Linked DNA regions of Homo sapiens: region 2 is linked to region 1. The links come from fine-mapping of genetic effects on gene expression. A gene starts in region 1. The other region holds a variant in brackets. All regions are shown on one strand. Distances are between the middles of the regions.

Region 1 (4,354 bases):
CCACCCATGGCTGCCCAGTCCCCAAAGAATAAAGCCTGAACTCCACAGACAGGCCATCAAGGACCTTCATGATCCAGCCCCTGTCTCTCTTGTCTCATCTCCACCCCATCCTTCACACATGCCAGGCTGCAGAACACACTTAGCACCTCCAGCCCTTCGGGCCTTTCTCCAGGCTTACCTCAGCTCAAAACGCCCATCCTCCCCACTCTCTGTCAAAATCCTTCTCAAACGCCACCTCCTCTGTGAAGCCCTCCGCAGGCTTCCAAGTCAGATGTGATCACTCAGGCCTCTGTGCCCCTCAAAGATGTTGCTGCAACTCAAAGAAGTCCCCGCTGGGCATTTCTGAGCCTGTCTTTCCACTATACACAGAGCTCCAGAAAGAGGAAATTTGAGACAAGACCAGGGTCAGTGTGCAGGGAGAAGAGTTAAGGTTCATGGGGCCTGGGGACATTTGGAACCAAAGATGGGGCTGAGGGTCCCGGAGGAGTAATGAGAGTAGAGTGAGAAGACCCAGACATGAGGGCCAGCCACATGGGCAGAGGTAGGACCTGCCTGGACAGGATTCCTGGTTCCTTTCTCAGCATCCCCAGCCCTACTCCTGCCGTTTTACCAGGACTAGGAGCTCCCTAGGTATGCTGCTGGGGTGGGGGATTTGGGCTGTGCTTTAGGTTTTCAGAGGGTGGGAGCAGAGTGGGTCTCCTCATGGAAGAGGGGGACTGGAAGAAGGGCTGGGGGGTGGGGTACGTTTCACAGAGTCGAGTTGGGCTCAGCCTGTCACAGCTGGAAAGGTCTTACCAATCACAAGAGGGGCTCGCGGCCCAGAGAGGAAGGGAAATGTTTGTAAGGCTACATGGGAGACAACTGGCAGAGCTGGAGAACCCAGGGGTCTACCTGTGCAGCTCAGAGCTCTTTCCTCAAGATGTCAGCGCCACTGGGCAATGGTGATGGAGGCTGGAGGGGCAGCAGTGATGGGAGTAGGGAGGGTGGACAGCCTGTCTGGGGACACAGGGTGGGGCAAGCCAGCCTCCTCGTGGCCTGGGCCTGCCAGGGTGTGTGGGCTGCCTGCTCCCAGCCCCCCACCCTGAGCATGCAAGAAGAACAATCCCCTTGTGTTTGGGCAGCCTGAGCCTGCATGCTGATGAAGGCTAGGGGGTGGGGGCTGGGATGGGGGTGCCCTGGAGGTTGAGGGGGCTCCAGGACCTGGGAAGACCAGGGGATTTTTTCAGATGGGGAAAGAATAGGGTCCCAGGTACTGGTCCTGAGGCAATGAGGGTGACCCAGGGAACAGGGAGGGCAGGAGCTCAGCTCCTAGGGAGTTCATGGATTGTAAGAGCCTTTGTGGCGGAAGGCAAGCCCCTGGGGACACATGTCCTGCTGGTTCAGCACGAACATGAGCATCCTGGGCTTGGTGGGGAGAAAGGAATGCAACTGGCCCTGGGTGCATCATCACCTTGGAGACCACTCCCCTGGGTGCTGGGGCCGGGTGGGGCACTGGGTGCCACAGGTCTCAAGATGGCGGGCCAGGGATAGGGGAGAGAGGAGGCGGGCACCTCCCTCTCCTGGCCAGGCAGGCATGAGGGCCAGGCTGAAGTGAGTAGCAGAGCCTCCCACCCCCACCCCCCAGGACCCCAGCCAAGAAGCTAGGTCAGAGCTGAAGGGCTGAAGAGCTATGGGGCAAGAGGGACCACTCTGAGCCCCCAGCTGTCATCTCCATACACCCCTGGCCTGGAGGTCTGTATCTGGCTCCCCCAACGACTGCGGAGGATGGGAAGGAGTGTGTGCCCAGCCAGGAGCTACAGGGGAGTGGCAAGTGAGGGCAGAGATGGAGCAGAACCAGAACCCAGGGCAGGAGTCAGAGAGAGGAGCAGGCGCAAAGGACAGAAACAGCGAGTGGGATGGGGGCCTCAAATCTGGGATCTAAGGTCCAGGAAGCCCCTCCCTGGTGCCAAGGGCGCCTCTGGCAGACCAGCGCCTCCCACCTGTGCAGGCCTCAGCGGTGTGGGACAGAGAACGTGTTCCTCGCAGTCTCACAAACCTGCGACCCCAACCGAGGGATCTGGGCGCGGGCTCCCTGCCCCCGGGCGAACCCCCAAACTTCGCGGCCCGCCGTGCCCCGCCCGGCCCGCGCCCTACCTCGCTGGGGCTGTCCTGCGGCGGCGGCGGCGGCGGCACGGCGGCTGGGCCGCTCAGTCCCACATTGTCCCCGGGAGAGGCGGCCGCTCACAACTGCGAGTGACATCAGCTGCGAACAATGAGGGGTTTGACAGGCGCGGAGCCCGGCCGGCCCGGAGCCCGGCTCCGCGCCCCCCCCCCACCCCCCGGCCCGCCCGGCCCGGCCCCTCCCCGCCCCCTCCCCGGATCCGATTACAGAGCGGCGGGCCCGCCCCAGCCGCCCCAGTGCCGCAGCCGCCCGCCCCGCCCCGCGCGCCGCGGTGCGCCCCGAGCGGCGGCCGCTTCCTGGAGGGCTCGGGCGACCCTTCCCCTGCCACTCCCAGAGCCCCACGGGTTGGGGGTAGGGGCGTCCGGCCTGAAGCCCGGTCCCCAGCCACGGCCTTCCCCGCACCGCCCGCGCTGCGCCCGGCTCCAAGCCCCTCCGCTCCCGCCAGGCCAGTCCTTCCGGCCCGGGCCGCCCGCCCGGCGCCTCTGCCGAGCCCCCTGCACCCCCATCCCCGCCTTGGCCCCGCCAGCCCCGGCTCCGCCTCGCTCCCGGCCCGCGTCCCTCCGAGCTCCGGCTGGGACCCTGCGCCCCGCCTAGCTCCCGGCTCTGCTCGCTGCGCGCCATCCTCCGCTCGGGCTTGCGCCCACCAAGACCCGCTCTCCTCGGCCACCCACAGCTGCATGGCCCGGCCCTCGTCCGCGCAGGACAGGCTGGAGGAGGGGCCTGAGAGCCGTGTGGCCCTGTGCACCCGATCCTGTGATAACCCCAAATCTACCCCCGGAATTCCTTTTGGGGATAGGGTCGCAAGGAACGGGCTCCGTTGAGTCTTTTACTGGGGAAGGGATACTAGTGGGGGTGATGAACTGTTCTCAAGTCCGCTGGGCACCCCCCGCCCTCGGGGAAGCAACTATTCCTTCCCCCCCACTCCTCCATAATCGGCTCAGCCTGGTCCCACTGACCTCCACCTCCCCCCACAGCTGAGTCTCTTGGCACCTGGGTATGTGTGGGTGGGGAGGGGAATCCAATCTCCCTTCCTCTCCATCTGGCCTGGTGGACAAAGGGCAGGGGGACCATCTGGTCCCGCCGGGGTGGGGGAGGGGCCCACAGTGTTGGTCCCAGGGGTGGGGGAGGGGCGGCGCTCTTTAGAAGCAGGAGCCGGTGGGGTCTAATTGCATCACTTTATTTCACCGACCTCCACTCTGGCTCCCACCCCACAAGCCTCAGAGCAGGAAACAAGCTTGGCTGAGATGCCTCAGGCCTGGTAACCTGAGGTGTAGAGCACCCAGAAGGAAGGGTAAAAGCAGGGGGCAAAGCGGTGGCCCTCCCTTTCTGGGGGTCACTTCTGGGCTGGGGCCAGCTGAAACCTGTGTCCAAGTAGCTTTCAGGGCTGGCCACACCCTAAGCCTTGCAAAAGGGCCTCCTGCAAGGGCTGGCCCATGGGGTCCCCACCTTCCCAGCCAGTGAGGTTAGCATGGTTAGGAGTCCACATGTGTGCAAGTGCTTGTGTGGAGGCTCATGTATGCATGTGTGTATATGCAAAGCTGCACATGACAATGTGCATGCCAGTCCAGAGTTAGATGTACCTATGCAGTTGCCCTCAAGCGAAGGGTCATATTTGGAAACAAGGATGGCTCTAAACATGTAAGCGTGCATGTGGGCATGTATGTATCTGGGGCCTAAGGAGGTGGGGAAGTGGGTGTTGGGGTAAGGGCTGGCCTTCAGGGCATTTGCAGAAGGAGGAGTGGGTGGGAGGGAAAGGCTGGGCAGAGCAGGGGAAGGAGTGAAAGCCAGGCAGGAAAGTGGAAGAACAGGAGAAGCTCATGTAATGGATTACCCTCCACAGGATTATGTTCCTTGATTCCTGAGAGTTTTTTCTCTTGATTTTACCCCCTCAGTCTATCACTGCAAGAGAAAGAGGTAGAAAAGACAAACAGACCACAAAAGACAAGAACCCAGACATATAGACAGACGCACCTGTTGCATGTGCATGAGCCAGAGCCTGGGAGAGAAGAGAGAGCGTGCAAGAGAGAGCTCAGAGCAGGCAGGCAGCCCACCCCCTGCAGCAGTGCTGGGCTTCACTGGAGCCCCTGCAGGAAGTCCAGCAGCCCTGTATGCCACTCCTCTGGTTTGTCCAGGTAACAGGGGTGCCCCGCCCCCTTCATGATCAGCACCCGGTGGTTGGGCAGCTGCTTCAGG
Region 2 (4,404 bases), 150 kb after region 1:
CACCGATAAAAAGGACTGTGGGCAATGCCAGCTATTCAGCCAAAGGGTGTGAGCAAAGTGAGAGCCACAACACATTAACAGGCACATCTTGACCCCCAGAGATGCCCTGAGCCCAAGGGCACGGGCAGCTTGAGGCGTCGGGGGTTTGGGCTCCATGAAGCCATGCCTTTTCCAAGTTGGGTAACTTGCCTGGGCATCTTCTGACTTGCCTGCAGCAGGCAGGAAGCCAACAGTTCCCTTTAATAGTATTTTTTTTTTTTAAGAGATGGGGGTCTCACTACTTTACCCAGGCTGGTCTTGAACTCCTGGGCTCAAGCCAGCCTCTTGCCTCAGCCTCCCAAAGTGCTAAGATTACAGGCGTGAGTCACTGCATCCTACCAACCTTAATGGTCTTGAAAAAATTAGGTGCCAGGATTGGGGTCAAGTGGAGAAGGGAGAGGCTCTTCTCTAAGACATATAAATCTGGGGTTCACTCCTGCTCCAAACACCTACAACACCGCTCTTGCTAAGAATCCGTTGAACCCACACTTCTCCCCTCTACAGAAAGTGAATGCCAAACCATAAATCTGTGTTCTCATTAAGCGACCCAAGTCCTCCCAAATGAGAAGCAAATCTGCTGCAAGGTCTGAGGGCTAGTGTCCCCCAAAATTCCTGTGTTGAAATCCTAACCCCAAAGTAATAGTATTAGGAGGTGGGGCCTTTGGGAGGTGATTAGGTCATATGGGTGGAGCCATCAGGTTTGGATTAGTGCCCTTATGAAAGAGACCCCAGAGATCTAGCTAGCCCCTTCCACCACGCGAGGACACAGTGAGAAGGAGCCATCTATGAAGCAGAAAACAAACCCTCACCAGACACTAAACCCGTTGGTGCTTTGCTTGGACTTCCCAGCCTCCAGAACTGTGAGAAATAAAATTTCTATATTTATAATCTACCTAGTCTATGGTATTTTGTTATAGCATCCTGAGCAGACTAACACATAATCTATGAGGCAAGGGATGAGAAAATACTTAACCAGTATAATGTACATTATTTGGGTGATGATTACACTAAAAGCCCAGACTTCACCCCTACACAATATACCAGGTAACAAAACTGCACTTGTACTTCTGAAATGTATACAAATAATTTTAAAAAATCTATGAGGCAGATGAGGTGGAAATGGGTCTCCTCTCCCTGTTTCTCCAACTCTCTAATTCCTCAGGCAAGGCACCTGGAGTGAGAACCCAGATCTTAAAAATCCACAGGCACCCAGGACCCCCAGATCCAAAGCATAAGGGAAGATCTAGTGCCAAGAATCTCTGGGCCAGGAATCAGGGTCCCACAAATCCCTAAGTGAAGCCCACCCCTGTGGCAGTGCCCCAAAAATGGAAATGTGGGAGGTTAAGGACAAGCACAGGAGGTGGCTGGTGCTTTACTCTCAGTATCAGAGGAACTAGGAAGAAGAAATAGACCATCCTTCGGCACGGATGAGGCTCAGTTCAGATGTTCTCAACTGACCCAGCTCCCTCTTCCAGAGGACAGTTCAAGCACTGAGGCTCTGGGGATCCTGGGCATCTTGTCCTGAGGAATCCTGTGGCAGAAGGACAAGTCTGTTTCCACCCACTCACAGATCTGCTCTCTCATCTGGGAGCACAGGGGACTTGGGTCTGCCATCAGGAAACACAATTTTGATGCCTGCAAGGGTCTAGAAACCTCACTGGCCCTCACTACGATGACCTGCAGAGAGGGGTCAACGTGGAAAATTATAAGTGCTCCCATTATTGCCCACTGTCCCTCACCCCAGCAAGTTTTGAACACATAATCTCCTGGATTGGCTTTCAGTCAGGGAGGGGAAAAGAACCCTTTTTAAAGTAGCTAAAGCTTGGTGGGGCAGGCGTGGTAGTTCACACCTATAATCCCAATGCTTTGGGAGGCAGAGGCAGGAGAACTGCTTGAGCCCAGGAATTTGAGACCAGCCTAGACAAGACAGGGAGACCCTTTCTCTACAAAAAATTTAAAAAATTAGGCCAGGTGCGGTGGCTCACACCTGTAATCCTAGCCCTTTGGGAGGCCAACGCAGGTGGATCACCTGAGCTCTCGAGTTCGAGACCAGCCTGGCCAACATGGTGAAATCCCATCTCTACTAAAAATACAAAATTTAGCCAGGCGTGGAGGTGCACGCTTGTATTCCCAGCTACTCGGGAGGCTGAGGCACAAGAATCTCTTGAATCCAGGAGGCAGAGATTATAGTGAGCCAAGATTGTGCCACTGCACTCCAGCCTGGGTGACAGCACAAGACTCTGTCTCAAAAAAAAAAAAAAAATTAGCTGGGTGTGGGGGCACACGCCTATAGTCCCAGCTACTCAGGAGGCTGAGACAGGAGGATC[G/A]CTTCAGCCTGGGAGGTTGAAGCTGCAGTGAGCCACAATTGCGCCACTGTAGTTCAGCCTGGGTGACAGAGTGAGACCCTGACTCAAAAAAAATAGCTAAAGCTTGATGAGCACTTGTCATGTGCCAGGCAGATGCACCACGCATGAAATCCCACGAAGGAGGGCCCAGCCTCTCCCCAAACGACAGAAGAGAAAACCGTGCCTCACAGACGTCTGGCCACTTTCCTAGGACCACACCCCAGGCAGGGTAGAGAAAGGATTTAATCACAGGTTGGCTGGAAGCTAGAACCCAGGCTCTTAACCACAGATGAGCTTTCCTCCTTAAAATGAGATCTTGAGAGGTGAGTGGAGAAAAGCACTCAGCCCTAGAACTCAAGGTTAATGTGTGAACCGGACAGCAGCCAACCCTTAGAACTCAGAAAGTGGGTTTTTTTTTCCTCCCGTTTCACTGAATTACCTAGAACTCTGTGTTCTCCTCCCACCCCACCCAGCGCAACCTTTCTTCCCCATTGCATAATGGGCCCTCAGACATTTGGAAGGAGGGCAAAAATAAGTCAATCAAGCAAATGCATTTTTGCTATTTAAAAAGTGGTTAAAAAATGCTTCTGTGGTTGAGCAGAAGTCCGTCCTATAGTGGCAGGGGTTTGGGAGGTGTTAAATTCAAGATCAGCCAAGATACAGGGGTCTTTATGCCTCGGGGTCAGGCCCCAAAGAACAGACAGCAAGAGGGTGGACAAGAATAGAGGGGCCAGGGCTGTGGCAGGAACAGAGCTAAGCACTAGACCCTTGAAAACACGAGCACGGGCACCCAATGCAGACAATTCCCAGGGGCTCCCATCCCTTGCCCACCCTCAAGCCCCTCTGGGAGGTGCTCATTTGCCTGCAAGTGGCTCTTCCAACCTTCCCCCAGCCTTGTAGCATGTCACAAGGCTGAACATGGAGCTTCTGTCCACCCTCAGCCCAGAGCATGGCCTGGAATCCTTCATCTGCAACCTTCTAAGTAGAGAAGGTTCCCCAGCCACAAGCCCTGAAATCCCTCCTCATGCACAACTCAGCCAAGAATAGAGGGAAAATGGAACCCATTATTCTCATTCTGAATGGCTGGGAAATGGCTTTTGCTTTTCAACATGAAATGTGCCTAAAAATAAGCTGTGAATTTCAACCAGAGGTTGAAAATAGCTCTGCAGTGAACAGAGCTCTATTCAGAGTGGGCTCAAGGACAACCTTCATTCCAAGATCTGAGAGCTGAAGTACTGCAGTCAGAGAAAGGGTCATGGGCAGGGGGTTTTCCTGGGCAGAAGGACCATCATAGGCTCACAGGGCTGCCCTTGCCGTGGTCTGCTAGTGGGTAAGTAAAGTAAGGGGTCCATGCAGGGTCTGCCCCTCTGGCTTTCGACTGCTACGCTGGAATGGGGACATGGTGAGGAATTCAACACCTACACCTGCCCGATGGGCTTCCTAGATTCCCCAAATGCCCAGGAGTATTTCACAAGGCTTCAGGGCCTGAGGCCCAGGGTGCAGACAGAGCTGATGTAGGCAGAGGATCATTAGATTCATGAGTTCTTGGGGCATGGCTATGGTGCCCATGAGCTCTTTGAGAAGTCGAGCCACACTGGTCAGCCACCAAACCACTGACCAGATATTCTCCCAGAGCCAGGAAAACCTTTAGTCAGGAAAGGCAAAAACACTCTCCAATTTTTAAGTGAAGAAAACCAAGTAGTTGCTAAAGGCAAAAGGTTTTTTTTTTTTGGTTGTTTACCATCACCTCCAGAAGACTGCGACCAAATGAGATTCCTACAAAATGACTTCTGTTAGAAACCCAGGCTGAGACACCTGGGCCACTATTGCTGCTGCTGGTGGAAGCCCAAATCTGGCCCAGTTGAACAGAGTCCTCACACTCAAGGCTGCTGGAATAGTCCTCGTCCGCATGCCCAGGGCCTCTCCCACCTCATCCCCGTGCTCCTCCCACTGCTAAGACAGCCCCATCTCCAGACACATTCCCACACTCCTCCCACTGCTAGGTCAGCTTCTTTTCTGG

What was found. PIP is the estimated chance that this variant, and not a neighbour inherited with it, causes the effect.
Region 2: its variant is the best candidate, but not a certain one, in a credible set for the expression of PCBP4 in whole blood (TOPMed, PIP 0.60).

The regions. Positions count from the first base shown.
Region 1 is chr3:51,965,193-51,969,546 of GRCh38, forward strand. PCBP4 (poly(rC) binding protein 4) reads right to left here and starts at 2,262. Exons shown (of 14, transcript NM_001174100.2): 1 at 2,134-2,262. It overlaps ABHD14B (abhydrolase domain containing 14B), which reads right to left. Exons shown (of 4, transcript NM_001146314.2): 4 at 3,323-4,354. The coding sequence ends at 4,234. RefSeq lists enhancers at 541-1,104, 1,105-1,666, 2,793-3,356, 3,357-3,918 and silencers at 1,952-2,221, 2,322-2,431, 2,442-2,721, 2,752-2,831.
Region 2 is chr3:52,114,902-52,119,305 of GRCh38, forward strand. The region is part of intron 9 of POC1A (POC1 centriolar protein A); the gene reads right to left. Among named protein-coding and RNA genes, the nearest start is that of POC1A, 37 kb to the right of the region's middle. The variant G/A (reference allele first, on the strand shown) is at 2,367.